7 separate regions of the Homo sapiens genome follow, and all the other regions are reported to be linked to region 1. The links are microRNA targets in miRTarBase. Many come from high-throughput screens and were not tested one by one. Region 1 holds a microRNA gene; each other region holds the end of a gene's coding sequence.
The links. The annotated mature microRNA hsa-miR-7160-5p reads UGCUGAGGUCCGGGCUGUGCC and lies in region 1 at 2,184-2,204, opposite strand. An mRNA with a match to its seed (bases 2 to 7 or 8) in the 3' UTR can be bound and repressed. Matches are read on the target gene's strand: a 7mer-m8 pairs with bases 2 to 8, a 7mer-A1 pairs with bases 2 to 7 and ends in A, and an 8mer does both.

Region 1 (3,081 bases):
TGCAGATTTTCACCGGTGCATCATTGCACTGCACCCAATTATTCGTTCCTACTTCACATCTTCAAGTTAAAAAAAGAAAAACAACAGAGAATAGCAAATGTGGCAACCTACTAAATATACATAGGTATATGCATATATGCACACACTGATTATAACAGGACAATATCTCACGCCAGTAAAATCTTTGCTGCTAAGATATTGACTTGTATAGATAAACATTAGAAGACAGAGCTATTTAGAAAATGCAATATATATATTATATGTAATATCTATTATATATGTAATATATGCCCATGAATCTTAATAATTTATAGCTGAAGATCAATTTCTGTCATCAAACACATTTAGGCAAAAATCTCCTCAAAAAATTATTTTAGACGCATCCTGAACAGTTCTTGTTCCGACTTACGTGACATAGTCACGGCACCCCTAAGCTGCGGCTTGGCCCGTCTGAGGCCCAGGCTGGGGAAACAGGCTCAGCCCCCTCTGCCTCCAGCTCCCGTCCCACTCTGTGAGACCAAGGGCCCAGGTCCCTGGGAAAGCTGGCTTACAGTCTCCTAGAATAATGTTAGGACATTTCTTTCTAGAATGCCTCTCATGTGGAATTTAGAAGTCTTTTGAAAATATTAATTCCTGACCAGAAACCTGGAAATATAGGAAAGATTAACCTCTGTTTTTCACAGGTTGAAAAATGTAAGAAAAAAACCTTCACATGAAATTCCCAGGAGAAAAGAGCTAGTTCAGAAAATCAGTGTTGGGAGGGAGCACTTCAACCCCAGAGTGGTGCCTTCATCTGGGAAAGAACCAGCTCTCCTCCTAAGTATCCAGCACTTTTAATGAAAGCTGTCTGATCCACATGTCATGGGCTGTTTTAGCCGAAGAGAACAACAGGTCAAAACCAAAAGTCTGATGGGAAAACCTGCAACTTCAGGCAACAGCTGGCAAGTCGTAAGCCCAAAGGAAGGGCAGAGGAGGAGCTGCACCCCCCACTTCCAAATGCACCCTCATTCCCAAAGTGTTCCGTTGCTTTGAATTTCATGTTTGCGCTTTTTGTAATGAGGGGAGGAGCGTGGATTGTTAGCTGAGACAGTGCAGGAAATGGTTTTTGTCAACATGGCGGGAAAACTTATCAGCTGTCCCAGGAGAAAAGAAGATCGTTTTGAGGGTTTGTTTTTCTTGCTGTAGTTGCTTAATTCAAGGTAAGCCCGGAACAGCACTCCCTGCAGAACTGTCTCTAGCATATCAAAATATTAGTTTGATGGCACAGGTCTCAGCCAAACAAGTAGTTTTGTTGGAAGAGAAAAGAGAATTTAATCAGCATAAACAAACAAACAAACAAAAGCCAATTCCCTCATTTTTTCCTAAGATAATCACCTTATTTTTCTGTTTAATATACATATAAAATTTTGCATTTCTACCAGGAACCATCCTTTGTGGTTTTTTTGTTTTGTTTTTTTGTTTTTTGTTTTGTTTTGTTTTTTTTGATGGTGGAGTCTCACTGTGTTGCCAGGCTGGAGTCCAGTGGCGCAATCTTGGCTCACTGCAACCACCGCCTCCCTGGTTCAAGAGATGCTCCTGCCTCAGCCTCCCAAGAAGCTGGGATTATAAGCACATGCCAGCACACCCAGCTAATTTTTGTATTTTTAGTAGAGACAGGGTTTCACCATGCTGGCCAGCATGCTCTTGATCTCCTGAACTTGTAATCCGCCCGCGTTGGCCTCCCAAAGTGCTGGGATTACAGGCGTGAGCCACCGTGCCCAGCCAGAACCATCCTCTTTTACTCTCTGTCTAATTTCTAAATTCATTTTCTTCAACTATAATTTACTCCAAGAACTGGAATTTGTATTTAGGGCATAAATTACATATCCAGTAAACCCACTGGCTCTGTGCAGTACACTTCCCAGGCTCCAAGCGCTGTCCCCAGTACGGGAAGTCAAAGAATTCAAACTCCACTGGCTCCAACGATGACCTAAATGTAAGTTATCAACTCAAACACAAACTCCAGTATTTCGAAGCTCAAGATTTTTCACTTGGAAACAAGAAGAACACCTTATTCCTCAGTAGAGAAAAGGAAAGAACTTTGTTAGAAATGAGCTGGCATTCTTCGCAGCACTTTGTCTCTCAGGAGGGAAGGACAGTTCCAAGCTTTAATTCTGCTAAAGCCAGGGCCCTGTCCGGTACGGGGCACAGCCCGGACCTCAGCAGAACCACAGCGCGGGGCTCAGAGTGAGCCTGAAGACGTTGGTGGGATTGGTTACTGGGTGTGCAACAGGCAAACGAGCCTCCACTTTCAACAAAAAGAAACCCAGTGTGGTTATGCTGGGCTCAGCCTACTTGGCCGTATTTACCAATTACCTAAATAGGAACTTATACAACCAATTAGCCATGTACCTAGAGCCAATCAAAAAATGGGAACGTCAACCTGCATTGAGAAAAATTTCTCAATATATTGTCCATGGTAAGATTCCATGCGGAACGTTCCCATCCCCGGGAGAATGCAAGACGCTCACCGGTCCACAAAATAGCCCATGACGGGGCTCTCAGTGGTGGTGTTGGGCGGCTTCCAGGTCACGATGACGTAGTCCCGGTTGGCGTCGTGGCACTGCAAGTCCATGGGTGCACCGGGGGCCCCTGTGACCAGCGGGTCAGCATCTTGGGGCAGGGAGAGAAAAGGCACACGCCTGTCATTTAAAGGCTGGGGTCACTGCAAAGCCTGTTTACAGCTCCTCCAAGCTCCAATTCTATCCCCTTGATTTGACCACTGTTTAATTCTCATGTTCAAAGTACTAGAATATTTCTTACTCTGGCGGGTTGGTGACAAGAAATATAAAATTATGTATGAATTAAAAAGCTTCAAAACATAGAATCCTTGATAAAACACTGAGTCTACAATTTTTCGTCATTAGATCCTGAATTACAGGTCATCTTCTCTTGGTCCTGCTATGGTGCATAACGGCACGTTGGCAAAAATGTGCGGATGAAACAGTGACAATAATCTGGCATTTCTAACACCTGAGAAATATCACCTGAGATACTCTTCTATTTCAAAATCCTTAGGAAATTGGGCGATTTACTCTTTTC
Region 2 (3,081 bases), not on the chromosome of region 1:
CAGGGCATCAGATTTAAAATCCCAGAGGGAAAACAAACTAACCTGACAGGTCAAAGAAAGTATTCAAAGCTCCCATCTGCCCAGAACTAGGAGGTATGTAAACTCTTTTCAGTGACTGTTAAGGATAGTGTACCTTAGTCCTTTGAGCTTTACCATGAGTCCCTACAGAAGATGTGAAGGTCATTTCTAAAGAATTTAAGAAATATACTTACTGATCCATTAAAGGTTAGGAAAAGCTAGAAATAAGTCCTTTCTTTCAGGAGTAGAGAAGAGTCTTATTAAAAACCACCGGCTTGACTTTCATTAGCTTTCTTGTGTTATACAATTTCTGCTTTTTGTTACTAAACAAAAGACTAAAGCCTAGTTAGGATGAAAAGTGAACTAAACAATAACCGTGCTAATAATAAAAAATGTAACTAACTTTGAGGATTTATTGTATGACAGGCAGGGTTCTAAGTATTTTCATTTAACTTAACCCTAAAAAAAAAAAACCCTCTATGAAGTTGATACTATTTATTGTCCCCACTTAACAAATCAGGATACAGAGGCACACAGAGATAAGGCAACTTGCCCAAGGACACAAGTTAATAAAGAGGTAGAGCCAGTTTTGAACCCAAGCAGCTGAACGCCAGAAATTGCCTCCAGAGAAGGCAGCTGAGTGATGCTACTTACCATTTTTGGTTATTGTGAAAGAGACTTTTTTTGTTCTCTATATTCAATGATTAGTCACCTGGGACATGTGATGATTCAACCAAATTAATAAGCTCAGGTCTGAAACTTACATGCCAAGTAAGTTAATCTCCCACTGGAGTCAGGGAGGGTTGTTAAGGAAAAGAGATTCATTTTAAGGGATGAATCTTTTCTACCTGTCAAGCAATTTTGAACACAGATGAGCTCAGATGCTGAATTCCTCTCCCAAGTGAGGGTCTCACAGGCCTAAGAACTGCTAGTGATGATTCTCCAGCCAAGAGGCCTTGCAGAATTCAGGAACATTAAGGTGATTCTAGTACTTCTCATAAACATGAGTTAGAAAACCTAAGATATTGGCCAGGCATGGTGGCTCATACCTGTAATCCCAGCACTTTGGGAGGCGGAGGCAGGAGGATCACCTGAGGTTGGGAGTTCAAGACCAGCCTGGCCAACATGGAGAAACCCCATCTCTACTAAAAATACAGAATTAGCCGGGGTGATGGCACATGCCTGTAATCCCAGCTACTGAGGAGGCTGAGGTAGGAGCATCGCTTGAACCCTGGAGGTAGAGGTTGTGGTGAGCCAAGATCGTGCCGTTGCACTGCAGTCTGGGCAACAAGAGAGAAACTCTGTCTCAAAAAAAAGAAAAAAATAGAAAAAGAAAGAAAACCTAGGATATCCTCAGGCATCTTTTGACCCCTAAGTAAGGGTCAAATAAATCCTCTAAAGGCTGCCCCAAACCTTTAGGAGGGAGATTATCACATTCTTCATCCACTTAGTAAGCATATGCAATTACTAGCTGTGTGACTTAGACATGCTACAAGACCTCTAGGCCTAGGTTGGCTCATGAGTAAAACAGGGGCATCTTATCTATCTGGCCTGCCAGGAGGCAAGAGGTAGATCAGATGATCTTTTGAGAACACTTCAAGCTCTAAACTAAAAATGAAGGCAAAAGGGAAGACTGGGGAAGGAGGCACTTTTCAACTATTTGCTCATCAAAAGCCAGAGTCCTACCTGCTTTGTTAATTCTTGCAGTAAATACTCCTTCAGGTGGTAAAGTCAAGCAGTTCACCTGGAGAGGGCTGCTTTGCTCCTCACAGAGCTTCAACCAGGCCAACTACTAAAGAGTTAATTCACATAGTATTTAATAATAAAGAGGAACAAACAAAATAAGAAAAATTAGTTGTTTCAGTATTACCAGAGGAGATTTTTTTGAACTACACAAGGAGAATGGTATCTTCAATCTATTCTTGACTACAAGTCTCATTAATGAAGAACTATGGAAAAGAATAAGACATGCATTCATTTTATGGCAAACTACATATTGCTATCTACCTTTAGTTCAGAACATTTACATGCAGTATTTTTAATATTAAAATTAAAATGTATGATAAATGCATGTTTACAGGACTAAATTAGCTATTGTTTGCAGTAAAGCCTTTGTAAATGGAATTTCACGTTGAAATCTTAGTCTTCTGTCCCCAACTCCTTCTTTCCCTAGCTCCTCTCGTTTTCTTTCTAACACTGAAATGTGGGGGAGAAAAATGAAAAGTGCACATCAGAAGAGAGTCACTTGCTGCTTTGGTTTTACTTTCCCATTTCTTTTTACTTTCTGTTTTTGGCTTTTAAAACAAGCCTCTTCTCCACCCACTCCCACCCTCTTTGCAGAGAGCAGACTTCAAACTTCACTTCTGTTTCTAGGTCCTAAAGAGAAACAAGAGGGGGGCGGGGAACAGAAAAGAGATCAATTGAGAGTTATTCCAAAATGCAAATTAACAACAGGTTTTCTCATTTCAAAACTCCCACATTCTGCCAATCTGAAAATATCTTTTCTCCACCTCTTCTGAATGACTTAGGTCCCCAGACAGCGAAGGAATTCAAGCCACAAAGGAGGTATTATGCTGCTTACAGTTCTTAATCTGCCTCCCCGAAGCGCTGCACCAGCCTCTCAAAAGGTTCCTTCTGTAGGTTAATTGCAGGTTGGAGCTCCCAGAATAGCATTTTCTTTTAAGGATGATCGCTCATCCACCATCCCGGAACATTTCTCGAGCTACTCATTAGAGTTTAATTTCCTCGAGCCAAGTCCCTGGAGACGGTGAAACCCTCCTCCCCGCGGCGTGGACGCGGGATGCCCCTGTTCGTGCCTGGAGAGCCCGGGATTCAGCAGGGCCCCAGCGTTCCCCAGGCTGTCCCTCTCTACTGCTGCGAAAAGTGAGCGCGGTCACGAAGTGCTCCTCAGTCCTCGTGGTCATGCGACCCTTGGCCCAGGAGGTCTGCAACACTTCTTGTGTTACCTGATAATCCTCCACCCGCACAAGCACGTATTTGGGTGGGTCTGCTGCGTCCCGCGGCGGGGCTACACGCCTGCCAGAAATTCGCTTTTGTCGTTGA
Region 3 (3,081 bases), not on the chromosome of region 1:
TGCTTTCAAATAGATTTATATTCTTCCTTTAAGGGTAAGTATTACAGAGAAACAGCATTCTGCAGTGTTTCTTAATGTTAGATGCCCTTTCGCTTTGTAGAGAGAGTATTGGTGGTGATGTATTTGTATCTATGTATACAAAATTAAGGGATTATTATGCATTAATAACAGACTGATAAGGAAATAGAATGTTATATTTACATATTGCTACAGGTCATAAAGCATGTTAAGTATGGCAAATTTGATTGTAATGATGTACTTCTTTTTTTAAAAACTACAGATGGGTGACGAACAATGACAGTTTTGCACCAGAGGACCCATGCTTCTTTTGTGATGTTTGCTTCCGAATGCTGCACTATGATTCAGAAGGCAACAAACTGGGGGAATTCCTTGCTTATCCTTATGTTGATCCTGGAACCTTTAATTAAGAATAGCTACACTCACAAAAATACCCCCTCATGAAATAACTGTTCTCTTGGATGGTTACCTTATTTCTAAGAAACGCCACTGAGGAACAGGATCCACTTTGAACAGTCCGCTAAAGCTATCAAAAAAAAGTCCAAATGACAGATTTTCTTATAATGATAGTATTTAAATGTTTATAACATAGTTTAATTTTATATTTATTCCAGATAGTATTTAATTTAGTGCTTTTTACCCATTTTGAGTTGAGTTGTAGTACTTTATATATTCTGACTTTAAATCCTTTGTCAGACACACATATTCTTTCTCCCAATCCATGCCTTCCCTATTCATTCTCTGTCCAGAGTTTTTTGCTAAAGATAGAATTATTAATGATACATCAAGTAGTGGAAGTGTTTTGAAAATTCTTTGAAGAATGTGAGAGCTACACCTTCTACCATGAGGCTTCCAAGGTAAAGATCCTTCAAATAACTGTAATGGAAACTAGGGAGAATGAATTATTTACAAATAAGACAAAATTAATAGCTTTGGGATTATTTATTTTTTGAGACAAAATCTCGCTCTTGTTGCCCAGGCTGGAATACAGTGGCGCAATCTCAGCTCACTGCAGCCTCCGCCTCCCGGATTCAAGTGATTCTCCTGCCACAGCCTCCTGAGTAGCTGGGATTGCAGGCACCTGGCACCATGCCTGGCTAATTTTTGTATTTTTAGTAGAGACGGGGTTTCACCATGTTGGCCAGGCTGGTCTCAAACTCCTAACCTCAGGCGATCCACCCGCCTAAGCCTCCCAAAATTTTGGGATCACAGGCGTGAGCCACCGCGCCCGGCTGCTTTGGGGGAATTTAATCTTAGTGTGCTGTTTAGTAATGTTAGGTTTTGTTTTGGAGGAAACTAGGCATACAAGACATGTTAATAAGACTATGTGAATAATGAATTTAAAAAGATCTTGAGTATATACTCATAACTCCAGAAATAACATTAACTTGAAGCTTTATTTCTTGACAAAAGCTTTATGAATGTTATGAGTTTAAAATATGTCAATTTAATACTATGATTTAAAAAACAATAGCAGATTTCGTATGACTGTGGGGACATGGAAAAATCAAGATCCTATTGATTGCTAGCTCTGGCTCACTTATTCTCCGGTAATGATACTATTGGATATATACCAAAATTATATAAGCAAAAAGAAAAAAAATAAGTTTTCCTGGCCCAGGTCTTCCATTCTTCTGGTCCCCTTACTATAGTAATTCTAGTTACTCTCATCTTATTCTGAGGAAAAAAAAAAAAACCAAAACTTTTTAAACTTATTTTTTGACATAGGGTCTTACTGTGTCACCCAGGCTGGAGTACAGTGGCGTGATCTTGGCTCACTGGAGCCCTGACCTCCCTAGGCTCAGGTGATCCTCCCACCTCAGCCTACCGAGTAGCTGAGACATGGTGGCACAGGCCACCATGGCGGGCTAATTTTTTTATTTCTTGTAGATACAGGGTTTCACTATGTTGCGCAGAATAGTCTCGAACTCCTGACCTCAAGTGATCCATCCGCCTTGGCCTCCCAGAGTGCTGCGATTACAGGCATGAACCACAGCGCCCAGCAAAATAAACTTTCTTTATTTTCAGGTCTAGACCATCAGATAGATTTATTCAAATATTTTCTGGGAACCTTTATGGGTAGAACATTTAATACTGTTTAGAAGACTTTTAGGAATACTATAGATTTCAAATGCATCATTTAAAATAAATAAATTCCACTTTCTCTCTCCTAGGTTGTATTTAAATTTGACTGAATATCTGGATGGCTAAGAACAGACATTTATCTTACACATGGAAAACTGACGAAACCTATAAGCCTATGTGTTTGACAGTGAAGTATGTTTTATGGACTTAAATGCCACAAACAGTTAAGTCCATTGGCTTGGAGATGACAAGCACGAGTTTCTGGTATGTCTAGTGTTCTCATTCACTGATTCAGTCAGTACACAGATAATCAGTATAGAGAACTTAAGAGGCTGGCTTATGTTATACCTAAATTTTTACTTTCTTGTATACAACAATGCTAAAATTGAGCAGATTGATAACTGCCAGCAAACCATAGATTTAAGATAAATGAATGATTTACCCAACCCTAAAATTCCATGGGTAAAAATTTTGATTCCTTTATTTTCAATACTGCGTTCCTTATAGGTCTTACATGCATATGCAAGGATATTTTATCTTATTCATTCATTTCATACTCTCAAAACACCAAACTTCAAAAAGTTAATTATTGTCATAATGCATTATTCCATGTGTGGTGTCAATACATTTTAGCGGACAAAGAAGAAACATGCCAGTTAAAACATTTCTGCTACTGGGATTCTTTATTAATTATTTGAGAATGTTATTTTGCTAGTTCTTAAGGTTAAGTTTTTCATCAAAGACTCAGGTACCTATTATTGTTCCCTGGTGAAACTGAGGAGAAAAGTTAATCAACCAGGTTACTCCCACAGTTTGCCCGTGTGTTATGTATCAGTTATACAGGTATCCCACCAAGTTCAAGTCAAAAGAAATTCCTAACTTTGTATATTTCTGGAGCTATAAAACCCCTGATTTAAGACAGCTTTTCTCTTTTTTCGAGGCAGCTTTTCTTTATGCTTATTTCAATCAAATGTAACA
Region 4 (3,081 bases), not on the chromosome of region 1:
AATGCTTTCTGAGCGATTTGTATTCATTCAGGACCAATGAAAAGGAAGCCTCCTACCCTATAGCTGTATAGTTGTGGGGTCCCAACTGCAGACCCTCCCGTGCTCCCTGAGTTGTTCTTGGGACACCTAAGGACCTCACCACACTGTTGCTGAGACATGATGTGCTGCACATATGATAAGAAGGCCAGACAGGCTGAAGCATCTGGAGAAAGATCTCTTTTGAAACAAAAAAAAAAAGGAAGGTAATATTAATATTATTGTTACTTTAATATACCATAATAAATCTAGTCATAAGACACCATAACTAACTCTTAGTCCATAGTCACTTGCATTATATGATAATCCAGTGCTGAAATATAAAGAAATTTCTGAATTAAGTACCCAGAAGTGCCTTCCTTCTGTACTCCTCCCTCTCTTTCAAATGGCTATCATTGATCATATAACACCCCCACCTCCTTGTCTTAATATATTTATCTCTGTAAAACTAGCTCAACCACAGAAGGGACATCTAGAAACAGCAATATTGATTTGGTTTGGCCTGTTTGTTTTTAAGGACTTTCCAGTTGCTGAATTCTGAACATCCAATCCGAGTCCTTGGAATTCTGCAGACTTCTCTGGGGTGGAGTGGCCTCACCGGAGGCTTGGTTCTGTTTTCTCTGTGGCAATTGGCTATGATTCACAGATGTGTTTCCAGAACAGCCCAACTGTGGGTCTCAGGGAAGTAAACTGCCTCTTAGGTCATCCTGCCTGTGCTGTAAATTCGGGGAAGGATTTCTGAGTACAGCAGGATTTCACACTAATTAAAAGGCCTTCGGGATCATTTCAGCCCTCATCCCCCAGGAGGCCAGTTTGGGGCTTTTCCCTACAGTAAAAAAGGACTCTTTCCTCACCAGTTCTCCTTGTTAAACATCTCCAGGGCACAATTTCCAGGGGGACCTGGAAAGGTTCCTTTTGAGGTGGAAATGAATCAACTCATTCCGCCTTTTCAAAGCTTTCTCAGGCTTATAAAGTGTCCTACTGAGAAAGTTCCTCTTCCTCAATGGGCTCTAGGAGACCTCCTGCTTCCTCTCCTCTGATTTGATCAATGGGTTACTTTTTTTCTTCAGAGATCCCTGGAGGCAGGTAGGTCCAGGGATTGCTTGGGTTAGAATTTGTTGATATTTCTATGGAAAGGACCCGTGCTATCCTGCCCTTGCTGAGAAATGAGCCAAGTCCAGGGGCTTTCCAGCACTTGGGAGCCTCACCCTTTACCAGCGAACACTATAGAAGGGGGATTGTTGAAGGTAAGGGCCTGTGGCAAATGGATTTTCTCACCGGGCGTTCACTGGGAGAAGGAGTTGATGAGTGCATTTTTCTTAGTTTCCTCTGCACAGGTCCCCAAGCTCAGGCTGGGTAAGCTTTTTAGGAGATGAAACTTAAGGAGAATGACAAAAGAGTGAAATATTAGCTTAAAAATTTTTCCTTTTTTTTTTCACCTGGCAGTTGAGTCAGATTGTAGGAAAATTAACCCAGATGGGTCTACATTTTTCTTCAAGTTCAAACCACATGGTTTCCTAGTCAGAAAGTCTCATGGACTTTCTTCCTAAGGTGTTCTATGATCAGACCACCTCCTAAATGTGGCTTTTACCCATTACAGGCTACAGTTGAATCAGGCAGGAGCAGCTGCTGGAGAGCACCCAGCCGACAGACCTGCATTCCAGAAGCAGCTTGGAGAAACTGGGAAGACATTTTTGACCCATTCTTGGGTTTTTACTGTAAGGTTAGCAGTTACATGATGCCACCAGTCCAAGACTTAGATCATGAGAGAAGGCCTTTTTAAAAGTTTACCAGGGAACATCGAGGCTCATAAAGAACTCTTTTGTCTTCACCCATCTCTCCTCCTCCCACTCCCATCCACTTTCTCATAGCTCAAAAACCACTCATTGGTAAGCACAGTCAAACCCAGGCCTGTAATCACCTCTGAAACAACTACTCCTAAGCAAGCAAACCCCATGGCTGGTAGACCCCGTGGGTATTTTGGCATCAACACTGCTCCCCTCCCCTCCCATCCCAGTCACTGCAGTTTAGAATTGCATGCCAATTTCCTTTTCTGGCAGGGCCTGGACGGCATGGAAGCCAGGGACAGCATGGGCCAGGTGCGCAGCAGCAGCAGCGCAGCATTCCTGGCACTGCAACAAACTGAGAATGTGTCTCAAGTGACTTTCCAGTCTGGCCCTTAGTGCCCAATAACCAGAGTGTCAGAAGTAGTGAGACTGAAGCTGTGTTTGCCAGACACCCAAGTCCATAGCCAGCTCGGTACTCCTCCATTCACTCTCTCTGTCTCCCCTAATGGGGTAATAGATCTCTTTCTAAGAAGGATGAAGATGGCGTTTGTCCTTGGCCTTGTAGGTATGGACGGAGAGGAGGGTAGAAAAGGAGTTGGTGTTGCATGTTTCTAAAGCATCTGAGAAGGTATTTTGATATTGGCAGAAGAAGCTAGTGGCAATCCCATATGTGGGCTCTCCAACACTGACTGACCCCAAACATGCTGAGCCCAGATCAGGCTGGCCGGCCGAAAGGTGGACTGTGTCTATCATTTCTGCTAGATTCCTATGTGAGGAGGCCAGGGATGGTGCTGACCTTCATGAAAGATAGCAGGCTGGAGTTCCCATGATACCAGCAAGATGAGGCTTGATTATAAAAAGTGCGCCTCAAGGCAGTGATACAGAGGAGTCTATGAAGCTGGAGTCTTAGGGGAGTGGTTGAGTCCTTCTGCAGCGGGGATGGGGCAAAATGGCTGTGCTCAGGATCGGCTGAGGCGTTTGGCGACATCAGCGTAGGCCAACTCGATCTCACTGTCAGCTGCACAGGTGTTGGTGAACTCATCACGGGCATAGGCGTTCTTGAGGTACCGCCACAGGCCTGTCATCTCAGCCGGGATATCATAGTTGCGGTATTTCTTGGCCACAATCTAAAACAGAGATGGCAGGACAGAGGTGGTGTGAAGGCATGAAACAAATCATTAGAAAGTGTTAGTGGCCGTCCCAGTGTGTGTGCACTGCAGGAAACCTCCGTGCATCACCACGGGCCATCAGTGATATG
Region 5 (3,081 bases), not on the chromosome of region 1:
AGTGTGCCTGGGGCTCCTCCAGCTGGCTTCACACAATTAGCTATTTACCAAAGCAGAATTCACCTGTGTGATTCTTGAATCATTAGGCTAAAGGACAGGGCCATCCAAATCTTTCCTGCTTGAACAGAAATTACACTTTCTCAGCACAAAACAGGCATTTCAGCCCTAGTCTTCAAGTAGTAATGGGAAAATCAGAGAATGTTCTTGGGATATGCAGTGGGTGCATCTGGCACAAGGGCCACGGAAGAGAAATACTTTAGGGTTCGGGTCACTAGAGTTCAGGGTTCAAAGGAATTAATGGAACGTGAACTGGGGCTGATTCTGCCATTCTTCTGACTGTAACTACAAAGTTTATACATTTCTCTCCCTGGAAAACTTTCTTTCCTATCAAAAGGGAAAGGAAAACCAACCACTATTTCTCCAAAAGCTATTCTCTTGAAGAACCAGAATCTTGCATTATCTGGATAGTTTCTAGAGAAACTATGCAGATTTTCACCCTTAGGGACTCTTTAAGCCTTAGGGTTTAAAAACCACTAGGCTGCTTCCCATTTTGCAGGGCAACTGGGACTACGGGACCCTAATTAACTGAAATCCTCACTGTACCAGATGTGGAGGGCAGCTGGTGGTAGCGGATGGCCAGATGGCAGTAAATCTCCCTCACCAAGGCTTACACCAAGGCTGTTGTTCACCGGCAGTAGAGCAGCTTAATTTCAGTTCCTTTTTATTTATCCTGCTTAGAAACGGCAAAAGAACGTCAGATGAGGAATATGGAGGAGGAGAAACAAGAAGTGGGGAGAAGGGAGATAATTTTTCTTTTCTTTTTTTTTTTTGAAACACAGTCTTACTCTGTCGCCCAGGCTGGAGTGCAGTGGTGCGATCTCAGCTCACTGCAAGCTCCGCCTCCCGGGTTCACGCCATTCTCCTGCCTCAGCCTCCTGAGTAACTGGGATTACAGGCACCCGCTACCACGCCCGGCTAATTTTTTGTATTTTTAGTAGAGATGAGGTTTCACTGTGTTAGCCAGGATGGTCTCGATCTCCTGACCTCGTGATCCACCCACCTCGGCCTCCCAAAGTGCTGAGATTATAGGTGTGTGCCACCGCTCCCAGCCAGGAGGGAGATAATTTTTCACAACAAGATAATGTCCCTTAGATTATCGAGTGCTGTCTACATTTCAGTGCAGATTCTTGGAGTTATTTCAAAGTTTCTTCTGATTTGATCTAGAAGAACAAGATCTAGAATCTGGGGCAAGATTATCCAAACCTGAAATCAAGGCCTCAGGAATACCTTATACCAAGTCTTGGAATGTGGGTTTTCGTATAAGCAGCTCTCTTCTTTACAACAGCTTTGCTGTTTTTGAGGTCAGAACAGGAGCCCTCTTTCTCAATGACGATTAAAATAAAACTTCAGGGCAAAGTTTTTGAATCTTAGCAACACATGGAAACATATGTCCTGTTGCCAAAAAAATTTTAATTGCCTAATCCAAACCAGAATATTTAGATCAACCTGTATACTATATATTATCTCTGATATACTATATCTCTAGTCCTCAGCATTATTCTTCATAAAACCAAATACCCACTTATTTGCTGAGTGGCCAGATCTAAGAGGAAGCTTTTCTGCCTTTACAGGGATGGCCTTTTGAATAATTGAGCAGACGAAGCATTGGAATATGAAATATTTGTAAATCACTGGTCAGCTCTAGTCAACCTCTTGGTGCTTTTGTTTCCTCTGGTCCCAGATGTGTCTCCTGGCTCTGGAAAGGGAGAGGCCAGTAGTAGGATCAGAAAAGGGAGCAACCAACCAGAAAACACCTAAGTTATGAGGTTTGTGCTTTTCCTGACTTAGAGAAAGTCCATATCTCAGGAGATAAACAGTTCTGGCTGCAGCTCTCTGGAGTAATCCCCTGAAATGGTGCCAGAGGGAGCATGTAGGGTAGCCAAGATTCTGACTCCTTGAACCATGGTCTAGCAAAGCCCTCAGATCCTGCATGAGAGCGCTTCCTATTTGTAAAATACCCTTGGGATCTCTCCAGTGAGGCTTGGGGGCCAGATCAGCCCCATTCCTAGCTGAGACTTGCAGAGCTCCTCTGAGAGATTGGAACTTCGCATTCCTTGAGATGGACATTCACATTCTCTACCTGCTCAGCCCTCAGCGAGCCAGCCCCACTGCCTCTGCCGCCCTTCTCACACACACAAGCCTGCTGCCGCAGTTGCCAGAGCATTCGGTCAAAGCAGGGCGCCACAACCACAGAGCAAATGAGGGAAGTGGGGCCGAGACACAAACATCCTGTCCTCATGACATCAAATGGCTCCAGCTTGAGAATCGGGGTCACTGCCCAGTGACATACACAAACGTCTCATCCCTCTAGCCACTGCCAGTAAGAGGGCATTTTCTCCTGAGTCCATGGATTGAAAAAGTGCTATCCTTTGGCTTGTGATGTCAGTGACAGGTGACAGTGACTGGAACGCGCCGCTGCTGACCGGATGAGTAGGGATATGTTGAGCAGAGGCCAGGCAGGAGTTCTGCTGAGGATGAAGTGAGTGCAGGCTCGCAGGACGTTCCTTCTCTTTCAAGGCACCAATTTAAGAGAGAGGGACTGAATGAGGAGCACAGAGCTGGAGCTCCCTCTGTTCAGTCCGCCCCATCTTTCCAGGACTCCCCCTTGCCCAGCTCTGTTTTTCTTTGCAGGACTTGGGGGTTCTCAGGCCAGGTCTTTCACCTTGTGTATGATCGCTTCCAGTTAAAGATCTCCTCCAGGTTGGAAGAGGAAGAGACTTCCCGCCTCTGCAAGGCTCCCCCACGACGACGGCCCCCAAGGAAGGAAGCTCTGTGCCTGCTCAGCCCTTTAATCCTCTCCTCCGTTCGGAAGAACTCAGTCAAGGCCCGGAAGGACTCCAAGATGACCTCATGGCTCCAGGCTGGCAAGGGCTCCTGGCGCAGGAAGCCACAGTGGCCTCCGTGGCGACTGAGCAGGAGGAAGAAGTAGGGGTTGCTGTGGAAGAGTTCAGTTGTCAGAGTGTGGTCTGGGGGTCCACACACGGGGTCGTCAGCACTGCAGATACACAGCACAGGCACGGC
Region 6 (3,081 bases), not on the chromosome of region 1:
GGGCCTCTCCAGGGCTGAGAGCATGGGTGAGATATGGAGTGGGGAGTGCAGGTGCGGCCCTCACCAGGCTCAAAGCACAGGTCACTGGTGTACAGGTTCCTGACCAGCAGGCTGGCGCACAGCCTGATGCTCTTGAGATGGCCGTAGCACCGGTTCAGGTAGACCAGGAGAACGTCCTGCAGATCGAGCTGCAGGCAGGTCCAGCGGGCTCCGGAGGGGGCCAAACCCACCAGATCTGCAGGATGGGCACTCAGGGTCAGCGCCCACCCTCCTGACAGCCCGCGACTCCCAGAACTGTGAGCTTGTGCCCCCGCCAGGTTGTCCTCCAGGCCGCAGAGGAGCCTCACTGGGCCTGCACCAACTCCCTCCAGCCACCTGTCCTGGATCATCCACACCCCATCTTGGTGTCACCTCTCTGAGGTGTCCTGGCCTCCAGGACCAAGGGAAACTGGAGCCACGTGGCCGTAGACTTAAACTCCTTGAAGAGGTTGGAGAAAGACACACGGATGACTTGGTTGTCCTGTGGGGACGGAGCAGGGCCGTGAGGAGACAGGGGCCGCAGGGGTGCCGGGGCTCCCACGCAGCCCCCAGCCGCGGGCTCCGTACCTTGGAGGACACATCGAGGTGGATGACGAAGTGCTTGCTGGGCAGGGGCCGAAAGAGCACATACAGGTATCGTCCCGTCAGCCCCAGAGACTGGGTGCTGCTCTTAGGGAGCTGGATGTAGTTGGCGGCAGAGACTGAGCCCCGAATGCGATACACGGCGCCCTTCAGGGTCTTGTCCTGGAGAAGCGGGAGCCCGCATCACCGACAGCACCCAGAAGAAGTGCAGCGGGGGCGAGGGGGCCCTCGGGGGCGGGGCAGCTCTCCTGGGGGCAGGGCAGGGGTGTGGGCTCCGGGCGAGCCCCCGGCCGCCTACCGTGACCACGGCCACGTCCCCCTGCTTGGCGGAGCGCTTCCACTCGTCCACCCGGAAGTGTCTGAAGACGTTGAGGAACGGGTGCTGCCACGCTGCGGGGAGCGGGCGCCGGGCGTCAGGGGACTCGGCCACGCGAGCCGGGGCCACTGCGGGGCTGGGCCGGGCCTCGGGGACCAGGCAGGAGCCGGGGCTCTCCGCGCCTTCCCCGGCGACGCCAACGCCAGCTAGGCTGGCGGGACGAGGCCGGGCGCCCGAGGGAAGCCAAGCTCCGGGAGCCCGAGGGTGGGCGCCCGGCAGACGGGACCCTGCCTGAGCGGGGACTCTGGCCTCAGGGCCTAGGCGGGGGCCCTGAGCGCTCCGGCCGCCGACCCTGGACCCCGGAACCCCGGAACCCGGGATCCTCGGGACCCCCGCCAGCCGCGCGCTACCTCGGGCCATGGCGCCGCCGCTCGAGCTTCCCGCCTAGGCCTCCGCGCGCCCAGCGCAGAGTACGCCCCGCGACGCCAGGCAACGGCTGCCTGGCAACGGTGCCACTTCCGCCATTACTTCCGCCGTCATGGCGGCGCCCTGGCCACGTGACCTCCCCGGTGGGAGTACCCCGCTCACGTCAGCGGCCTCCAGGGTTGCTCCAGCCGCGAATCCCGCTGCCCTTTGCCCCGCGGGCCTCCCAAGGCAGCCCCCTGTTAGCCCGACCGGCTTCGAAGCCCGCGCCGGTTGCGGATCCTCCGCCGCGCCCACCTGTCAGCGCCTCGGCCGGCCGGGGCTCCCGCCGCATGCAAGCAGCGAGGCGAGGTCGCGCTGAGGCCTGGCCATGCCACGGACGGCCGGGCCTCACCCTGCCGCTCTCTCGCCGTCCAGAGGCCCCTGCTCCACACCTGGGTACCCTGGGTCCTGACTCAGGTGGGCTGGGTCATCCCCGTCCATCAGGGAAGGTAGTGCGGGCGCCCGCGGAGGGGCTGGTTCCCACGTTCGTCCTATCAGGTTCCCCACGTACTCCTTCGCCCAGTGTCCTGCGGCCGGGCCCGGCGGATTCAGAATGGGACCTGGCGTTCTGAGACACAGCCCCAGTGCCGGTAGTGGGGGGTGGTGGACTGCACTCCGGGGCCATTTAATGTCTTTAGGCCTTGAGTCTCGGCTTCGGTCCCAGTCAACGCCAACGGGAGAGGAAAGAGGAACCAAGTGGGGTCCCCAGACTTCCAAGCAAGGTGGGCTGGCTAACGTCCCTCCTACCTGTCGCAGGGCAGCTGGGTGAGAAGCTAACGGCTTGAAGGAACAGGGCTACAAGGGGAGTTTGTGCTGGGCCTGGCGTCCCAGGCTGTGGACTGGAACTGGACATGAGAACCCCCCCTACACCCTCCCAAGTCAAAGACACTCCAAAAAGACAGTTTCTCCACTTTATTAGCCTGGAGCTCCTCCCTGCCAGCCCCAGGGGCTGGTCGCTGGTCCCTGGGCACAGTGAGCAGGGCTGAGGTCAGACGGGTTCGGCCCTTGGCCATGGCAGCTTGGTTGGGACAGCCGGGCCAAGGGAAAAAAAGGTGCAAAAGTCCAAATGCTGGCACTTCAGGTGTGGCCGGCACCCAGCCAGGCGCAGTGGGTGGGCAGGGCGCCATGCTTCTCTCCTGGCGACAGGTCGGCCGTGTAGCAGCGCCCCCTCCCAGCAGCCACTAGGAACAGCTGGTGATTCTCGCCAGGAACTGCTGCGCCCACCACTCGTCTAGGTCAATGGGCACAAAGTCTGTGGGCAGAGAAGGCTGGGCAGTGATGCTGCCTCCCAGGCCAGCCGGCAAGTCTCCCCTGGAGCTAACCACAAGCCGCTCACCCGGACTCCGAGTGCGGCAGGCGCTGGGAAGAAGGGGTTTCTGCACAAGAGTCCCCTCCCTCATCCCCTGGGGTGGGAACCTGGCAGGGCCTGGGTCAGGATCAGAGGGGCTGGGGGGTCTCTCCTGGGGGGACAGGGTTGGGGGGCTCACTCTGCAGCCGGGGATTGGGGGTCCTCTCCACGTACTGCACAGGCCTTGGCCCGCCCTCACCGGCTGGGCCACCATCCAGCTGCTGTTGCACCTGCTGCCAGGCTGTGGGAGGAGGGCAGTCGGGCTGAGCCAGGTCCCAGGCACCCCATCGCCCACCCAGGGCCTGATGGTCACCCTGGACTCCAGCCCCAC
Region 7 (3,081 bases), not on the chromosome of region 1:
TGTTGATGATGGGAGAAACTGTGCATGTGTGGGGGAAGACGGTATAGAAACTCTCAATGCTCACCGCTTAGCTTTGCTGAACCTAAAAGTGCTCTGAAAAAAGTTTATATATTTAGCAAAATAGATATGATCGCGCCAGAGAATTCATTCTGGGGACTAGATAGTTTTGGTTGGTGCACAAAACTGATCAAATAAACCACATATACCAAACCTAGCCTCTACTAGTTTTCTCAAATTGTGGACACTGGGAAACATATTAAAATTGGTTGGCATGTCTTTTAAAGATGATGATTAAAGAGCCATTTTCTAGACCTCCTGAATCAGAATTTCTTAGTGCTGCAAGTTAATAGTCTGCAGTTTAGCAAGTTATTCGGGTCGCTTTTATGTGTCAGGGGGTTTAAGAATCAGTATTCTATTCATGTCCACACATTTTGGGGTACAAAATCAGATGCCAAATTGATTTCAAATAAGTTTTAATAACTTTACCTTCTCATTGAGCACAATCACAAGCTTAAAATTTGTGAAAAACCATTAAATTATCTACATATTCTTTTTCTCAAACCCTCTATAAACTAATGAAATAAGCCATGTAAATAATAGTGAAGTAGAGTCATTTGGGAAAATGCATGTATGTCTCTGACACCATTTTGAAAAGGAATAAAAACATAAATGATTTGTGATTTTGGCAAACAGTACAAATATATTAATACATCTTAGAGATGAAATCATTATCAGCATTATCTTTACTATAAGACATACTAAGGATATTTTAAATAAGACAGAAATATTTTGCTTTTAAGTTTGAGAGAATCATGAAGGAACTGTTCAATTTCGTGTGTTCATCTGATAAGAGGACAGCTAAATGTATCCTCCCCATATTTCCTGTTTCTATTTTTAAGAATACCACAAGCAGCTATTCTAACATGTCTTTCTTACATAAGTTGTCCACAAATGCAGCCTGGCTAAAACAGCCTATCTCGAATTGGTTGCTTGAAATTCTAGGTGTAATTGGCAAAATAACAGTGACTCAAAAGAATATTTGCACCCCCAAATCTAAGGAGCTAAAACTTAATGCCAGTGTTACTTAAGAAAATCTCTCCACCACAAAACCTCAGTTTTGTCTTTTTGTATATATACCCCACTTGTATTCTAAACTCCATAATTTCACATATTATTTTCTTTAATGACCCATTTACTCTAGTATTTTGAGCTTCATAAGCAAACTGAAAATATAATGTCAATTTGATCAGTTTCTCGTGCACCATTTCTGTTGTCACCCACCCCACCTAACACACACACACACACACACACACACACACATCACATTCCTTTGTGCAGCAGCTCAGCTCACATATTTGTTGAAATGGATTTTAACCTTTGCTATCCACTTTGTATGAAGACTATTACATTATTCAGTAGCAGCACCTGAGAATTCGAATAGCCTCAAACTGTTGAATAAAATTATAGGCTATTTTTGAAATAGTTTAACTCAAGTACTTTGGAAAGTCCAAAAATCTGAATCCATCTTTTGCTATACTCTTAAGTGGCTGCAACCTCAGTATTTTAAAATAAATGATTAGCAAACTAAAATATGTCACTACAGATGATTTGCCCTGATTCCTTAGTAAGAAGAACAGCAAGATGCAGATGTGGTGAATGAAAGCAAATTGACCCCTACAGACCAATTAAATATTCTGGGTTTTCCTCCATTCCATTAATTGCACTTTAACTTGCTATCAAGTCAAGCATGAAGCAGTTTAAGCTATCTTCACTTGCCCAGTGATACCTATTCTGACTAACTTTTAAACTATTCAGATGCCCATAAGTATATTAATTCAGCAGCATTATGTCACATTCCTATCCATTAGTCTATGTGACCCAGTGAGTCTCTACTTTCCTCATAAATGTGCTATACGTTGACTGCTCCATTAATACCTATATTTGCTTATCAATCTAACAGAGTAGATATAAGCATTTGTTTGCCAGGTATGTGGAACATCTACCCTATATCCAATTGGTATATTCTATATTTTTATTGCACCATTTATTATTTTCATTTTCTTACATCAAGCCTAAAATGATTTCTCCTTTGCATTTAAGAAACACCATTCTTAGACTGACACAGCAAAAATTTCTTATTTTGGAAGACTGACTTGAAATATACAATCATTACTGTATTTATGGTTGGTTAGTCAAATTGGGACATTTTGTTTTCAAGAGTGTGTAGTGAACTGATGCAGGTAACACAAACCTCTTTTCCCTACAAGTCTTTCCAATAGCTTCAAAGGCAAGATCGAGTTTGTATATTGGGTAAAATGTAGCTAAGTTTAAACGTTCTACTATTCTGCTACTCATGATGTCAACCAGTTTTGGAGAGATTTTGTTATTCAAGGCTATAATATAAAAAGCTCCCAAATAAGTTTCTGAGAGAAATTTTAATCATTTATCCTATGGACCCTTAAGACCCAAGCACTAACATGAACATTTCTAAAGTAAAAATTCTCAAATTGAGAAATATTATTTGACATCCTGTTGAGCCCAGACAATGATGTCAACATGCTGATCATTCAATGGTCCCTGTTGGAGTCAGAAACAGACTTAACTCCTCACACATATGGATGCATATTCTGTTGGTGCTTCTTTTACATTTCTTGCCAGTCTTGAGTTCGGTCCAATGACAGAATGGTTCAGGGAAGCATAAACAATGCCTGGTTTGTTTTCTTCCAGGCATGGATTAGAATAAACTTCAGACCCTTCCTGCATCCTGAAACAAAGGTCAGGGTCATTATCATAAATTCCAGTTTCTGATAGCAGTACTTGGGAATTTTGCCTGGTGCTTGCTTCTGTTTGCTCACTCTTAAGGTGAGCATCAACCTACAATAGAAAAAAAGATGGTTTTAAGTGACACTTACGGCCATGGTAGTGCATATTCATTAGCAAACTATGAATGAAAAGCTTAAATGGAGTCATGTCCATTGTGAGAAATAATCTACTGTTCCTCACATACTCTGCTGACATCTACACTTTCAGCTAAATTTCAATTATTAAAGGATGAAAGGCTTGAGAATCACTATGTCACCC

Region 2: the mRNA of C6orf141 is a reported target of hsa-miR-7160-5p. The part of its 3' UTR that is shown has no 7-base or 8-base seed match.
Region 3: miRTarBase lists SNAPC3 as a target of hsa-miR-7160-5p. Seed matches in the 3' UTR shown: 7mer-m8 at 1,836-1,842.
Region 4: miRTarBase lists CLIC5 as a target of hsa-miR-7160-5p. Seed matches in the 3' UTR shown: 7mer-A1 at 2,526-2,532, 7mer-A1 at 1,194-1,200 and 7mer-A1 at 148-154.
Region 5: miRTarBase lists ABHD15 as a target of hsa-miR-7160-5p. Seed matches in the 3' UTR shown: 8mer at 2,527-2,534, 7mer-A1 at 1,588-1,594 and 7mer-A1 at 1,076-1,082.
Region 6: miRTarBase lists MCRIP2 as a target of hsa-miR-7160-5p. Seed matches in the 3' UTR shown: 7mer-m8 at 2,384-2,390.
Region 7: the mRNA of BTLA is a reported target of hsa-miR-7160-5p. The part of its 3' UTR that is shown has no 7-base or 8-base seed match.

What each region holds. Positions count from the first base shown.
Region 1 is chr8:2,075,712-2,078,792 of GRCh38, reverse strand. It overlaps MIR7160 (microRNA 7160), which reads right to left and starts at 2,204; the gene lies at 2,153-2,204. It overlaps MYOM2 (myomesin 2), which reads right to left. Exons shown (of 37, transcript NM_003970.4): 11 at 2,511-2,652; 12 at 1-59.
Region 2 is chr6:49,551,194-49,554,274 of GRCh38, reverse strand. It overlaps C6orf141 (chromosome 6 open reading frame 141), which reads right to left. Exons shown (of 1, transcript NM_001145652.2): 1 at 2,180-3,081. The coding sequence ends at 2,748. Among named protein-coding and RNA genes, the nearest start is that of C6orf141, 2.1 kb to the right of the region's middle. RefSeq lists enhancers at 2,287-2,806, 2,823-2,892.
Region 3 is chr9:15,459,439-15,462,519 of GRCh38, forward strand. It overlaps SNAPC3 (small nuclear RNA activating complex polypeptide 3), which reads left to right. Exons shown (of 9, transcript NM_001039697.2): 9 at 281-2,188. The coding sequence ends at 428. Among named protein-coding and RNA genes, the nearest start is that of SNAPC3, 38 kb to the left of the region's middle.
Region 4 is chr6:45,900,306-45,903,386 of GRCh38, forward strand. CLIC5 (chloride intracellular channel 5) reads right to left here. Exons shown (of 6, transcript NM_016929.5): 6 at 1-2,950. The coding sequence ends at 2,783. Among named protein-coding and RNA genes, the nearest start is that of CLIC5, 110 kb to the right of the region's middle. RefSeq lists enhancers at 623-1,311, 713-1,912, 1,616-2,460.
Region 5 is chr17:29,559,843-29,562,923 of GRCh38, forward strand. It overlaps ABHD15 (abhydrolase domain containing 15), which reads right to left. Exons shown (of 2, transcript NM_198147.3): 2 at 705-3,081. The coding sequence ends at 2,719. Among named protein-coding and RNA genes, the nearest start is that of ABHD15, 5.7 kb to the right of the region's middle.
Region 6 is chr16:647,693-650,773 of GRCh38, reverse strand. MCRIP2 (MAPK regulated corepressor interacting protein 2) reads right to left here. Exons shown (of 5, transcript NM_138418.4): 4 at 2,890-2,991; 5 at 2,300-2,654. The coding sequence ends at 2,584. It overlaps WDR90 (WD repeat domain 90), which reads right to left and starts at 1,409. Exons shown (of 41, transcript NM_145294.5): 1 at 1,348-1,409; 2 at 920-1,011; 3 at 607-783; 4 at 412-520; 5 at 65-235. The coding sequence starts at 1,357. LOC105371038 (a long non-coding RNA gene) reads left to right here and starts at 1,461. Exons shown (of 2, transcript NR_135177.1): 1 at 1,461-1,819; 2 at 2,159-2,316. RefSeq lists silencers at 1,035-1,164, 1,275-1,374 and enhancers at 550-1,372, 2,795-2,844.
Region 7 is chr3:112,463,510-112,466,590 of GRCh38, forward strand. It overlaps BTLA (B and T lymphocyte associated), which reads right to left. Exons shown (of 5, transcript NM_181780.4): 5 at 457-2,874. The coding sequence ends at 2,599. Among named protein-coding and RNA genes, the nearest start is that of BTLA, 34 kb to the right of the region's middle. RefSeq lists enhancers at 6-145, 2,583-3,081.